Linked DNA regions of Homo sapiens: regions 1, 3 and 4 are each linked to region 2. Evidence: fine-mapped expression QTL. A gene starts in region 2. Each other region holds a variant in brackets. All regions are shown on one strand. Distances are between the middles of the regions. Region 1 has its middle 3.9 kb from the start of TIMM29. Region 2 holds the start of CARM1 (coactivator associated arginine methyltransferase 1). Region 3 has its middle 1.5 kb from the start of C19orf38. Region 4 overlaps CARM1 (coactivator associated arginine methyltransferase 1).

The links. PIP is the estimated chance that this variant, and not a neighbour inherited with it, causes the effect.
Region 1: its variant is the best candidate, but not a certain one, in a credible set for the expression of CARM1 in blood mononuclear cells (TOPMed, PIP 0.50).
Region 3: its variant is the best candidate, but not a certain one, in a credible set for the expression of CARM1 in whole blood (TOPMed, PIP 0.57).
Region 4: its variant is the best candidate, but not a certain one, in a credible set for the expression of CARM1 in whole blood (TOPMed, PIP 0.80).

Annotation. Positions count from the first base shown.
Region 1 is chr19:10,931,402-10,934,074 of GRCh38, forward strand. No RefSeq gene overlaps it. Among named protein-coding and RNA genes, the nearest start is that of TIMM29, 3.9 kb to the left of the region's middle. The variant C/T (reference allele first, on the strand shown) is at 1,453.
Region 2 is chr19:10,870,403-10,873,084 of GRCh38, forward strand. It overlaps CARM1 (coactivator associated arginine methyltransferase 1), which reads left to right and starts at 1,151. Exons shown (of 16, transcript NM_199141.2): 1 at 1,151-1,520. The coding sequence starts at 1,301. RefSeq lists silencers at 411-1,200, 1,331-1,380, 1,471-1,680 and an enhancer at 2,421-2,600.
Region 3 is chr19:10,845,616-10,848,297 of GRCh38, forward strand. It overlaps a transcript of C19orf38 not described here. Among named protein-coding and RNA genes, the nearest start is that of C19orf38, 1.5 kb to the right of the region's middle. The variant A/G (reference allele first, on the strand shown) is at 1,442.
Region 4 is chr19:10,914,800-10,917,481 of GRCh38, forward strand. It overlaps CARM1 (coactivator associated arginine methyltransferase 1), which reads left to right. Exons shown (of 16, transcript NM_199141.2): 7 at 1,608-1,698; 8 at 1,897-1,978. Among named protein-coding and RNA genes, the nearest start is that of YIPF2, 12 kb to the right of the region's middle. The variant C/T (reference allele first, on the strand shown) is at 1,489.

The DNA.
Region 1 (2,673 bases), 61 kb after region 2:
CTGGGCGACAGAACAAGACTCCGTCTCAAAAAAAAAAAAAAAAAAAAAATAGCTGGGCGTGGTGGCAGGCATCTGTAGTCCCAGCTACTCAGGAGGCTGAGGCAGGAGAATAGCGTGAACCCGGGAGGTGGAGCTTGCAGCAAGCAGAGATTGCACCACTGCACTCCAGCCTGGGCAACATAGTGAGACTCCAGCTCAAAAAAATAAATAAATAAGTAACATTTTTGTTTTGATTTTTTTAAGTTTTTTTTTGAGACAGAGTTTCGCTCTTGTTGCCCAGGCTGGAGTGCAGTGGCACTCGCCCCAACCACCGCCTCCTGGGTTCAAGCGTTTCTCCTGTCTCAGCCTCCCAAGTAGCTGGGATTACAGGCGCATGCCACCACGCCCGGCTAATTTTTGTATTTTTTAGTAGAGATGAGATTTCATCATGTTGGTCAGGCTGGCCTCAAACTCCTGACCTCAGGTGATCCGCCTGCCTCAGCCTCCCAAAGTGCTGGGATTGCAGACGTGAGCCACCGTGCCCGGCCCTCGTTCCCTATTAAAAATACAAAACCAGGCAATTGACAGTGTCATGACTATTGGGATGTTACAGGGAAGTTTTTTGTAAAACAACCTGTTTACCAGATGAGCATTGTAAGTTACTGGAGGTGGCTTGGAAGGATAAAGCATTTTCTGGTCTGGAAATCTATATGGAATCATAGATTCTGGTTATGTTGTACTTCAGTAACCCTGAAACAGAATTCTATGAAAAGAAGTAAGTTAGTGTACACAGCTGGTACTTAGCTAGGTTATGGTAAATTGTATTTTTGTTGTTGTTGTTGTTGTTGAGACAGAGTCTCACTCTGACACCCAGGCTGGAGTGCAGTGGCACGATTTCGGCTCACTGCAACCTCTGCCTCCCAGGTTCAAGTGATTCTCTTGCCTCAGCCTCCTGGGTAGCTGGGATTACAGGCATATGCCATGATGCCCAGCTAGTTTTTGTATTTTTAGTAGAGATGGGGTTTCACCATGTTGGCCAAGCTGGTCTCAAACTCCTGACCTCAAGTGATCCTCCCACCTCGGCCTCCCAAAGTGCTGGGATTATAGGTGTGAGCCACTGCGCCCGGCCAATATTTTTTTTTTTTTTTTTTTTTTTTTGAGACAGAGTTTCACTCTATTGCCTAGGCTGGAGTACAGTGGCATGATCTCGGCTCACTGCAGCCTCTGCCACCTGGGTTCAAGCGATTCTCCTGCCTCAGCCTCCCAAGTAGCTGGGATTACAGGCATCTGGCACTGCGTCCGGCTAATTGTTGTATTTTTAGTAGAGACGGGATTTCACTATCTTGGCCAGGCTGGTCTTGAACTCTTTGTGATCCACCTGCCTTGGCCTCCCAAAGTGCTGGGATAATAGGCGTGAGCCACCACACCCGGCCTCAATACTTTTTATTTTTTTTAAGTGTAATTTATGGCCGG[C/T]GCAGTGGCTCACACCTGTAACTACAACACTTTGGGAGGCCAAGGTGGGAGGATCGCTTGAGTCCAGGAGTTCGAGACCAGCCTAGGCGACATGGTGAAATCCTGTCTCTACAAAATACACAAAATTACAAAATACACAAAAATTAATCGGGTATGGTACACACCTGTACTACCAACTATTCAGGAGGCTGAGGTGGAAGAATTGCTTGAGCTTGGGAGGTTGAGGCTGCAGTGAGCCAAGACTGCATCACTGCACTCCAGCCTAGGTGACAGAGCAAGCCCCGTCTCAAAAAATTAATAAGGCTGGATGCGGTGGCTCACGCATGTGATCCCAGCACTTTGGGAGGCTGAGGTGGGTGGATCACAAGGTCAAGAGCTCAAGACCATCCTGGCCAACATGGTGAAACCCCGTCTAACAAAAATTAGCTGGGCGTGGTGGCGCACGCCTGTAATCCCAGCTACTTGGGAGACTGAGGCAGGAGAATCACTTGAACCCGGGAGGTGGAGGTTGCAGTGAGCCGAGATCACGCCACTGCGTTCCAGTCTGGGCAACAGAGTGAGACTCCGTCACACAAAAAAAAAAAAAGAGAAAAAATAAATAACATAAAACTGAAGTATTAAGGGAGTGATGCTACCTCAGGGGCCTGTGGCAAGTTAATAAAACCAGGTGGTAAAACAACTATCTTTGTTTGTGATACTTGTTTTTGTGTGTTTGCTACTTTCAAATTTTGGCATTTGACCCTTGCATTCATAATCAGTGGGTTGAACAGGTGTTGGTTTAAGTCAGCATCTCACTTTTACAGAGGAAAAGCTGAGGTTCAGAAAATTTATTTTTCCAAGGCTGTGGCAGGACCAAGATTCGAACTGTAACTCCCAGCTCTGTGACTTAATCCTCAAACTTGTGGACTTTGATCCTAATAATTCTTGTCAGAAATAGTTAAATACTGCTATCAGTTGCCATAAATAAAAATTGGATATAGAAATACATATATAAAGCCGGGCGTGGTGGCTCACGCCTGTAATCCCAGCACTTTGGGAGGCCGAGGCGGGCAGATCACAAGGTCAGAAGATCGAGACCATCCTGGCTAACACAGTGAAACCCCGTCTCTACTAAAAATATTTAAAAAATTAGCCGGGCGTGGTGGCAGGTGCCTGTAGTCCCAGCTACTCGGGAGGCTGAGGCAGGAGAATGGCGTGAACCCGGGAGGCGGAGCTTGCAGT
Region 2 (2,682 bases):
TCACTTGAACCCGGGAGGCGGAGGTTGCGGTGAGCTGAGATCGAGCCATTGCACTCCAGCCTGGGAGACAGAGCGAGACTCCGTCTCAAAGAAAAAAAAAAAAAAAAAAAAGGAATGAGGCGTAAATGAGGTCTAGGGAAGAGTTAAAGCTGGAGTGCTAGGAAGTGGCCCAAGCTCACTGGGTCGCCCAAAAGAGATGGGGCCACCCAAAATGAAGGGGGATGCAGAGAGAAGACGGGTTTGTGTGGCGGGAGAGGGGCCCTGCGCCGGGCCAGGCTGGACTCAGCATCGTTGGAGGAGGGGCTGAGAGAGGAGGGGGTCAAAGGATATCTTGTGCGAAAGGAGACAGTCAAACATTAAGGATTAAGAAGGCAATGTGGGCAGAGATGATGGGGAAGGGAGGAGGAGCGGTCGAATGTCGGGGAGGGGTCCTTTCAACCGGGCTCAGGTTGCTCCTGGAGGCCAGGGCTCATCGGAAATCGTCGGTGCGGGGGCGGTGGGGGGAAGGGTTGGGGGCGAGGCCCGGGCGCTGGCCACGCCCTTTCCCCCGCCCATTCCCCAGAGCGGGGCGGCTGACAAAGCGAGTCCGGGTGGGAGGGCGCGGGCAGGCACGGGGGCGGGGCCTCGTCGCGGCTGGGCCACGCCTCCCTGAGGGCTGCCTCACAAAGCCGGGCGGGCCCGGGGGGGTGGGGCCCAGTCTCAGGGGCGTGTCCAGGTCGGGGCAGGGAAGCCGCATCACGACGCGCGGCTGCTTGTGTGGGGCGGGGTACAGGGCGTGTCCACGCGGCCGAGCACCGCCCCCGCCGTCCCCGCACCGCCTCACTCGAAAGCAGCCGTTAATGAGGCGCCGGCCTGGGGGCGGGGCCCAGGCCTCCGAGGGGCGTGCCCGCGCGCCCGAGCACCGCCCCCGACGTACCCTCCCGCCCCGCAGTTCCCGGGCGGTGGAGCCACCTCACAAAGCGGCGACCGTTCTCGCGGGGCGGGGCGTAGCCGGTCCCGCCCCACGGGGTGCCCTCTCGTTCGCTCGCTAGCTCCCCGCGCCCAGGACGGCCGGCAGAGGGCGCTGCGCCACGGGGCCGGGCCGCGGCGACGGTGGCGGCGGCGGCGGCGAGGCGGCGCGTGGCCGGCAGGCGGCGCTGCCCGGCTCGGCCTCGGCCTGCACGGCGGCTGCGGCGGCGGTAGCGGCAGCGGCGGCGGCGGCGGCGGCGGCGGCGGCGGCGGCGGCGGCGGCGGCGGCAGCGGCGGCGGCCTGGGCCCGGGCGCAGCGGCGGCGGCGGCGGGGCCTGGAGCCGGATCTAAGATGGCAGCGGCGGCGGCGGCGGTGGGGCCGGGCGCGGGCGGCGCGGGGTCGGCGGTCCCGGGCGGCGCGGGGCCCTGCGCTACCGTGTCGGTGTTCCCCGGCGCCCGCCTCCTCACCATCGGCGACGCGAACGGCGAGATCCAGCGGCACGCGGAGCAGCAGGCGCTGCGCCTCGAGGTGCGCGCCGGCCCGGACTCGGCGGGCATCGCCCTCTACAGCCGTGAGTACGGGGCCCCGGGGCAGGCGCAGGGCCGGGGCTGCTCACGAGGCCGGCCCGGGGCGGGGGCCGGCGGGGAGGGGCCCTGAGCGCGGGGGCCTGGCGTGGGGTCCCCGGGACTGAGCCGGTGGCCTGCAGGGAGCGACCGTGGAGGGCCGGTGCCAGGGGACAGACAGAGAAAAGAGGGCGTGCGTGGTGGCCGGAGGGGCAAGGTGCCCAGAGTGAGCAAGGGAGCGCGAAATGGGGAGTGAAGGGCCTGAGATTTGGGAGGGGTGGGTGAGCAGGAAGTGGGGGGCTCTGAGTGGAAGGGGAATTTGGAGGACGCCAGGCGTGGTGGGCTTAAGCGTGGGGGAGGGAGGTCCGGGGTGCGGGAGAGGTGGGCGTCTCGGGGGCGGGCGTGGCCGCCTCTGCAGGGAGGAGGGTGGGGCGTGGGCGGCCCGGGATCCCTCTGGGGACCCCCTGGATAGCTCAGGACGGTTGGAAAGTGTTTGCTGGTCTGGGGCGCCCGCGAGTACCGAGTTCCACCGCTGTGCGAGGTGTGGCGTTCAGGACCCCCGAATGGGAAACTTCAGGATCTGGGGAGAGGGCCCATGCGGGGACGGTGGGAGCCGCAGGGTGAGCTCCTCGTGGAAACGTGGACGGGACGGGCCCCTTCCTGATGCCGGGCTTCGAAGTAAGAGCTAACAGCCTCCTCCCATCTTCTTTTGGGGGATGTGAGAAGCTGGTTACATTTTCCGAAGCTGCTTTCAAAACTGACATTTCACTGGGGGGAAAAGAAAATCACAAATGCGTTTGCCAGCACCCCCCACCCCCGCTCCCAGTCTTTGTAGTTCATTCTTCTTCTTGTTACTCCTTCTTATCTCTTCTCTTTGATTCCTTGTTCACATTTTGCTACTCTGTGTCATTTGGCTTTGTCTTTCAGGGCTTCTTGCACTGATGCCCTGGGGAACCCCTCAGGAGGCCTCTAGCTAGCTTGGGTCCTGTGTGAATTTTTTGCCACTTTGGAAACGGCCCGATTAAAGGAAAGCCCGAGGAGCAGTCCGTTCACACTGGGTTTTCCCTGCACCTCGACTTTGAAAACGTGGACTAAAGGAGTTGTGTCTGCTGTCCGAGGGTGCCGTCTCTTTTTGCTGGTGCAGAGCCTGGGTCTTCTTGGACCAGATGA
Region 3 (2,682 bases), 25 kb before region 2:
ACGCCTGTAATCCCAGCACTTTGGGAGGCCGAGGCAGGTGGATCATGAGGTCAGGAGATCGAGACCATCCTGGCTAACATGGTGAAACCCCATCTCCACTAAAAATACAAAAAATTAGCCATGCATGGTGGTGGGTGCCTGTAGTCCCAGCTACTCAGGAGTCTGAGGCAGGAGAATGGCGTGAACCTGGGAGGCAGAGCTTGCAGTGAGCCGAGATCACGCCATTGCACTCCAGCCTGGGCGACAGAGCAAGACTCCGTCAAAAAAAAAAAAAAAAAAGAGGGTTTAAAGTTAATGAGCTGCCTGTAATCCCAGCACTTTGGGAGGCTGAGTCAGGAGGATTGCTTGAGCCCAGGAGTTCAAGATCAGGCTGGGTAACATAATAGGACCCTGTCTCTACAATTTTTTTTTTTTTAATTAGCCAGGTGTGGTGGTGGACACCTGTAGTCCCAGCTACTCAGGAGGCTGAGATGGGATGATCTCTTGAGCCCAGCAGGGTGAGGCTGCAGTGAGTCATGATCATGCTGCTTCACTGTAGCCTGAGCAATAGAGCAAGACCCTGTCTCAAAAAAAAAATGTTTTTTTGTTGTTTTTTTTTTGAGACAGAGTCTCGCTCTGTTGCCCAGGCTGGAGTGCAGTGGCATGATCTCAGCTCACTGCAAGCTCTCCTTCCCGGGTTCACGCCATTCTCCAGCCTCAGCCTCCCGAGTAGCTGGGACTACAGGCACCCACTACCACATCTGGCTAATTAAAAAAAATTTTTTTTTAATAAAAAGAGTTTATATAAGCATCCATCTTAAGAAGCTATTAATACAAATTTCTGCTGGTGAAGTTTAAATTTAAAAACAAAACATGAGCTAGGAAAAGAAGAGCCAATTGAACATAAGGTAACCAGAAAAAAGAAAAGAATAAAGTCAAGTCAAAAGGCAATAAAATAGAAAATAAAACAACAAATCCAAACTGTGGCACTTTGAAAAGATCAATAACAATGATTAGCTCCTAGGAAGACCGATAAGAGACAAGGAGACTTCACTAATTTATGTGTCAGGAATGAAAGAAGGAACATCACTACAGACCCTACAGACATTAAAAGGATAGTAAGGGGATATAAATAACTTTACACCAATACATTTGACAACTCTGATGAAATGAGCAAATTCCTTGAAGATACAAGCATGCCAATTGCAATAAAGGAATATTACAGGGCACTGTGGGAGAATTTAGCTAGGGGATTGTTCTAAGTCCAGAGGGGCCTGGAAAGTTTTCCCAGAAGTGCTATTTAAACTGAGACCTGAAGGAGAAGCAGGATTTGACCAGGTTGACAGAATTGTGTTCCAGGCCAGGGAAATAGTGTGTGCAAAGGCCCTGAGGTTGGATTGAACTTTCTGTGTCCAAAGAAAAAAGTTTACTCTAATGACGCATTTTGGTGTTTGATGACCAC[A/G]TGCCACATCCTTCTTGGGTCCAAACCCCCAAGCAAACCTGACTGGCTTGAACAGAAATGTTTAAAAAGATAAATGCAAACCCAGTAGTAAGAGAAACTTGGAAGTTTCTGGGCTGTAAACAGGAGGCAGTTTATCCTGTGAACTATATCACAAACTATATCCAGAATTGATCTGGAACTGGTATTCCCTTTCATGTGGCTGATCAAACTTCTGAGTCTTTTTCCTCCCTGTAACTTTACCTTGTGAGCATGCACTACCCACTAGGCGTTGCATTTCCTACTACAAGTTCTTTGAATCTAATGTCCACTGCTCTTTTTTTTTTTTTTTTTTTTTGAGATGGAATTTCACTCTTGTTGCCCAGGCTGGAGTGCAATGGCGCGATCTCAACTCACCACAATCTCCATCTCCTGGGTTCAAGTGATTCTCCTGCCTCAGCCTCCCGAGTAGCTGGGATTACAGGCGTGTGCCACCACGCCCGGCTAATTTTTTGTATATAGTAGAGACGGGGTTTCACCACGTTGGCCTGGTCTCGAACTCCTGACCTCAGGTGATCTGCCCACCTCAGCCTCCCAAAGTGCTGGGATTACAGGCGTGAGCCACCACGTCTGGCCTAATGTCTACTACTCTTAGCCCCATTCTGCAGAGCAGTATACTGAAGCCTCAAAGGAGGTAAGCCATGCCTGAGGTCACAGAGGCCAAGCCCTAACCACCATGTCCTCCCACTCCTGCCCATATTTGTTTAAATGTTGGTGCTGGTTAGGCTATGGTTTGTGTCTTGGGCATGGGTTTCCAAACATCCCACTGCTGTCACCCTGTCTCATTCCCAGGAGTTCTCTTAGAAGGAGAGACAAAAGGCTGGGCACGGTGGCTCACGCCTGAAATCCCAGCACTTTGGGAGGCTGGGGCGGGCAGATAATGAGGTCAAGAGATCGAGACCATCCTGGCCAACACAGCAAAACCCCGTCTCTACTAAAAATACAAAAATTAGCTGTGCATGATGGCTCCTGCCTGTAGTCCCAGCTACTCAGGAGGCTGAGGCAGGAGAATCACTCGAACCTGGGAGGTGGAGGCTGCAGTGAGCCGAGATCGCTCCACTGCACTCCAGCCTGGGCAACAGAGCAAGACTCTGTCTCAAAAAATAAAAATAAAAAAAGAGGAAAAAATTGTGAAAACCACCTAAACATCTCATCCATTTTTTTCCCCTCTAATCTGCAGAACCGCAACCAGAGAGGTGCGCGGG
Region 4 (2,682 bases), 44 kb after region 2:
CCCGCCTCAGCCTCCCAAAGTGTTGGGATTATAGGCATGAGCCACTGTGCCTGGCCTGGGTGACTGTTTCTATTTGCCCATCTGTCTTGGGGTCTGTGCAGCCCTGACGCCTGAGGCATGTGCCTGTGGCTCTTCTCATGCTAGGTATGTGAGCGTCTGAGCATTTCTGTACAGGCAAGCAGCTGTGTGTGCGTGTGGCAGGGTACAGGTCCCCAGCCAGGGTAGCAGCCATGGGATGGAGCGTGGGCAGCAGCAGGCTGGTGGGGCTTGTGCAGGCAGGGGCAGGGGGGAAGCTTCCACTCTCATCTCTGGCCCGCCCTGGATCCAGGCCCTAGGGTCCTGGCTGGCTGTGCTCCTGGAGGTGGGAGGTGGCGTCCCACAGCTGTGTCTCATGTCTTGGGTGTGAGTATGGGAAGCAAGGCTGCTCCAGGGGCTGTGGGCCCCACTCTCCTCCCCTTCTGCCCTGATGGTGGGGATGGGGGTGGGGACAGCCCCAGCAGAGAGGGCCCCTCCCGATGGGACATGAAGCCAGATGGCAGTCAGGCTCTGTGGGCAGCTGCATGTGCCCCCGACGTCCCAGCAGCCAGCTTGCAGGGAGGGGGGAGGCCAGGCCTGTGCAAGGAGGACTCCTGTCCAGCTCAGGAAGCTCTTCCAGGGGTTAAAGGCAGCCCTCCCCTCTCCCAGTCACATGTCTTCTGGTCAGCAGGAGCCAGAGGTTCCTTCCAGGCTGGGTCACTTCCCATGGTGCCCCCAGGTCCCCCAGGGCAGAAGCCGCAGCATGTGCATCTCCCTCCCCGTTCCAGCAGCTGCAGCCCTGCAGCTCTCGCCTCGGGTACAGCCTGGTGGCGTAAGGAGGAGGCAGAGTCCCACTGATACCTCAGGATCTCCTCCCCCAGCTTGCAAGGCTGGGGGGCCCACATCTGGAGGCCAGGTGCTCCTTGGGGCAGGCGGGGCTGCGGGGCCCTGATCCTCCCTGCCACTGGCCCTGACTCATGCGTCTACCCTTGAGTCACAGAGGGAGGCCCTGCCCTTCCCTCAGTCTGTGTGCCCAGACCAGGCAGGCCAAGTGGCCCATCCTGCCGGCTGGGTGCCTGTGCCAGAACCTAGGCAGTCCCTGTGGTGTGGATTTGGCTTCCCCCACCTGGCTCTTGGCCTCAACTGAGGTCCCCAGCGGCGTTGGGGTAGCCCGGGGCCCACCACCCTCCCTCTGTCCAGAGCAACTTTGCTATGCTTTCCCGGCTGCACACATGCACAGACGGCAGGGCCTGAGAGGCAGCGCCTGGCCACATCCCGGGCACTGCCTGCTTCCCCGTGAGTCTTTGGCAGGTCCCTCACACCTGCCAGGTCTAGTAATAGGACATAAAGATGAGCCACCAGCCTCCCAGTCTCAGGTGGAATTCGTGAGCTGGTGCAGGTCAGGTACCCGTGGTGGTGATGAAACACTGATCAGAATAGGCGCTCGGTGCCACTGTCACAGGAGTGCAGGAA[C/T]GAATGGATGACAGGCTGGGAGCACCCAGGGTTGGGGGTCTTGGGGTCCTTTGGAAGCTCTGCCAGGCAGTGTGGGATGTGTCACCTGACGCCAGCACCCCTCCCTGCCCCACTCCCAGGAAACATGTTTCCTACCATTGGTGACGTCCACCTTGCACCCTTCACGGATGAACAGCTCTACATGGAGCAGTTCACCAAGGCCAACTTCTGGTGAGTGTGCCCTGGGTGTCCCGCCTGGGCCCCACAGCCTGCCTTCTCAGGGACAGCCCCAGCTCCCCAGAGAGCCTGCACTCCTCTTTTTCTGAAAGACTTGGGCTAGATGAGGGCTGACTGGGAGAGAAGGCAGGGCTACCCCACCTGCCTCTTCTGCAGCCCTGACCTTGCTGTGGGGGTGGGGCCTGTCCACAGGTACCAGCCATCTTTCCATGGAGTGGACCTGTCGGCCCTCCGAGGTGCCGCGGTGGATGAGTATTTCCGGCAGCCTGTGGTGGTGAGTAGGGCCTCCAGGGTACTGCTGCAGTGATCACTTGCCATTGCTGTGCAGCTGTGCAGCCCTCAGGAAGCTACAGCCCCTCTCTGAGCCCTCTCCTCTGCCCTGCACAGCGCTCTCACAGAGATTTGGGCCAAAAGTGTCAATGCATGTAGACACTTAGCACACAGCACACATGCAATACATGTGGAACATTATTAGGTGAGGCTAAGGCAGAGGGGGCATTTAGGCTCAGGAGTTCAAGATCAGCCTGGGCAACACAGAGACGCCATCGCTATTTTTAAAATTAAAATAAATAAATAATAAAAATAAAAAAGAACCATTACTAGATGAATTTATCCTTGGTGAGCTGATGTGATTTATTGATTGATTTTACTTGAGATTTTTGATACATAGATCCATGATTTAAAAATCAAAAGGAAAAAAAAGCTAGGTGCAGTGGGTCACACCTGTAATCCCAGCACTTTGGGAGGCCAAGGCGGGCAGATCACGAGGTTAGGAGATTGAGACCAACACGGTGAAACCCCATCTCTACTAAAAATACAAAAAATTAGCCAGACGTGGTGGCGGGCGCCTGTAGTCCCAGCTACTCAGGAGGCTGAGGCAGGAGAATGGCGTGAACCCGGGAGGCAGAGCTTGCAGTGAGCCGAGATCGCACCACTGCACTCCAGCCTGGGCGACAGAGTGAGACTCCGTCTCAAAAA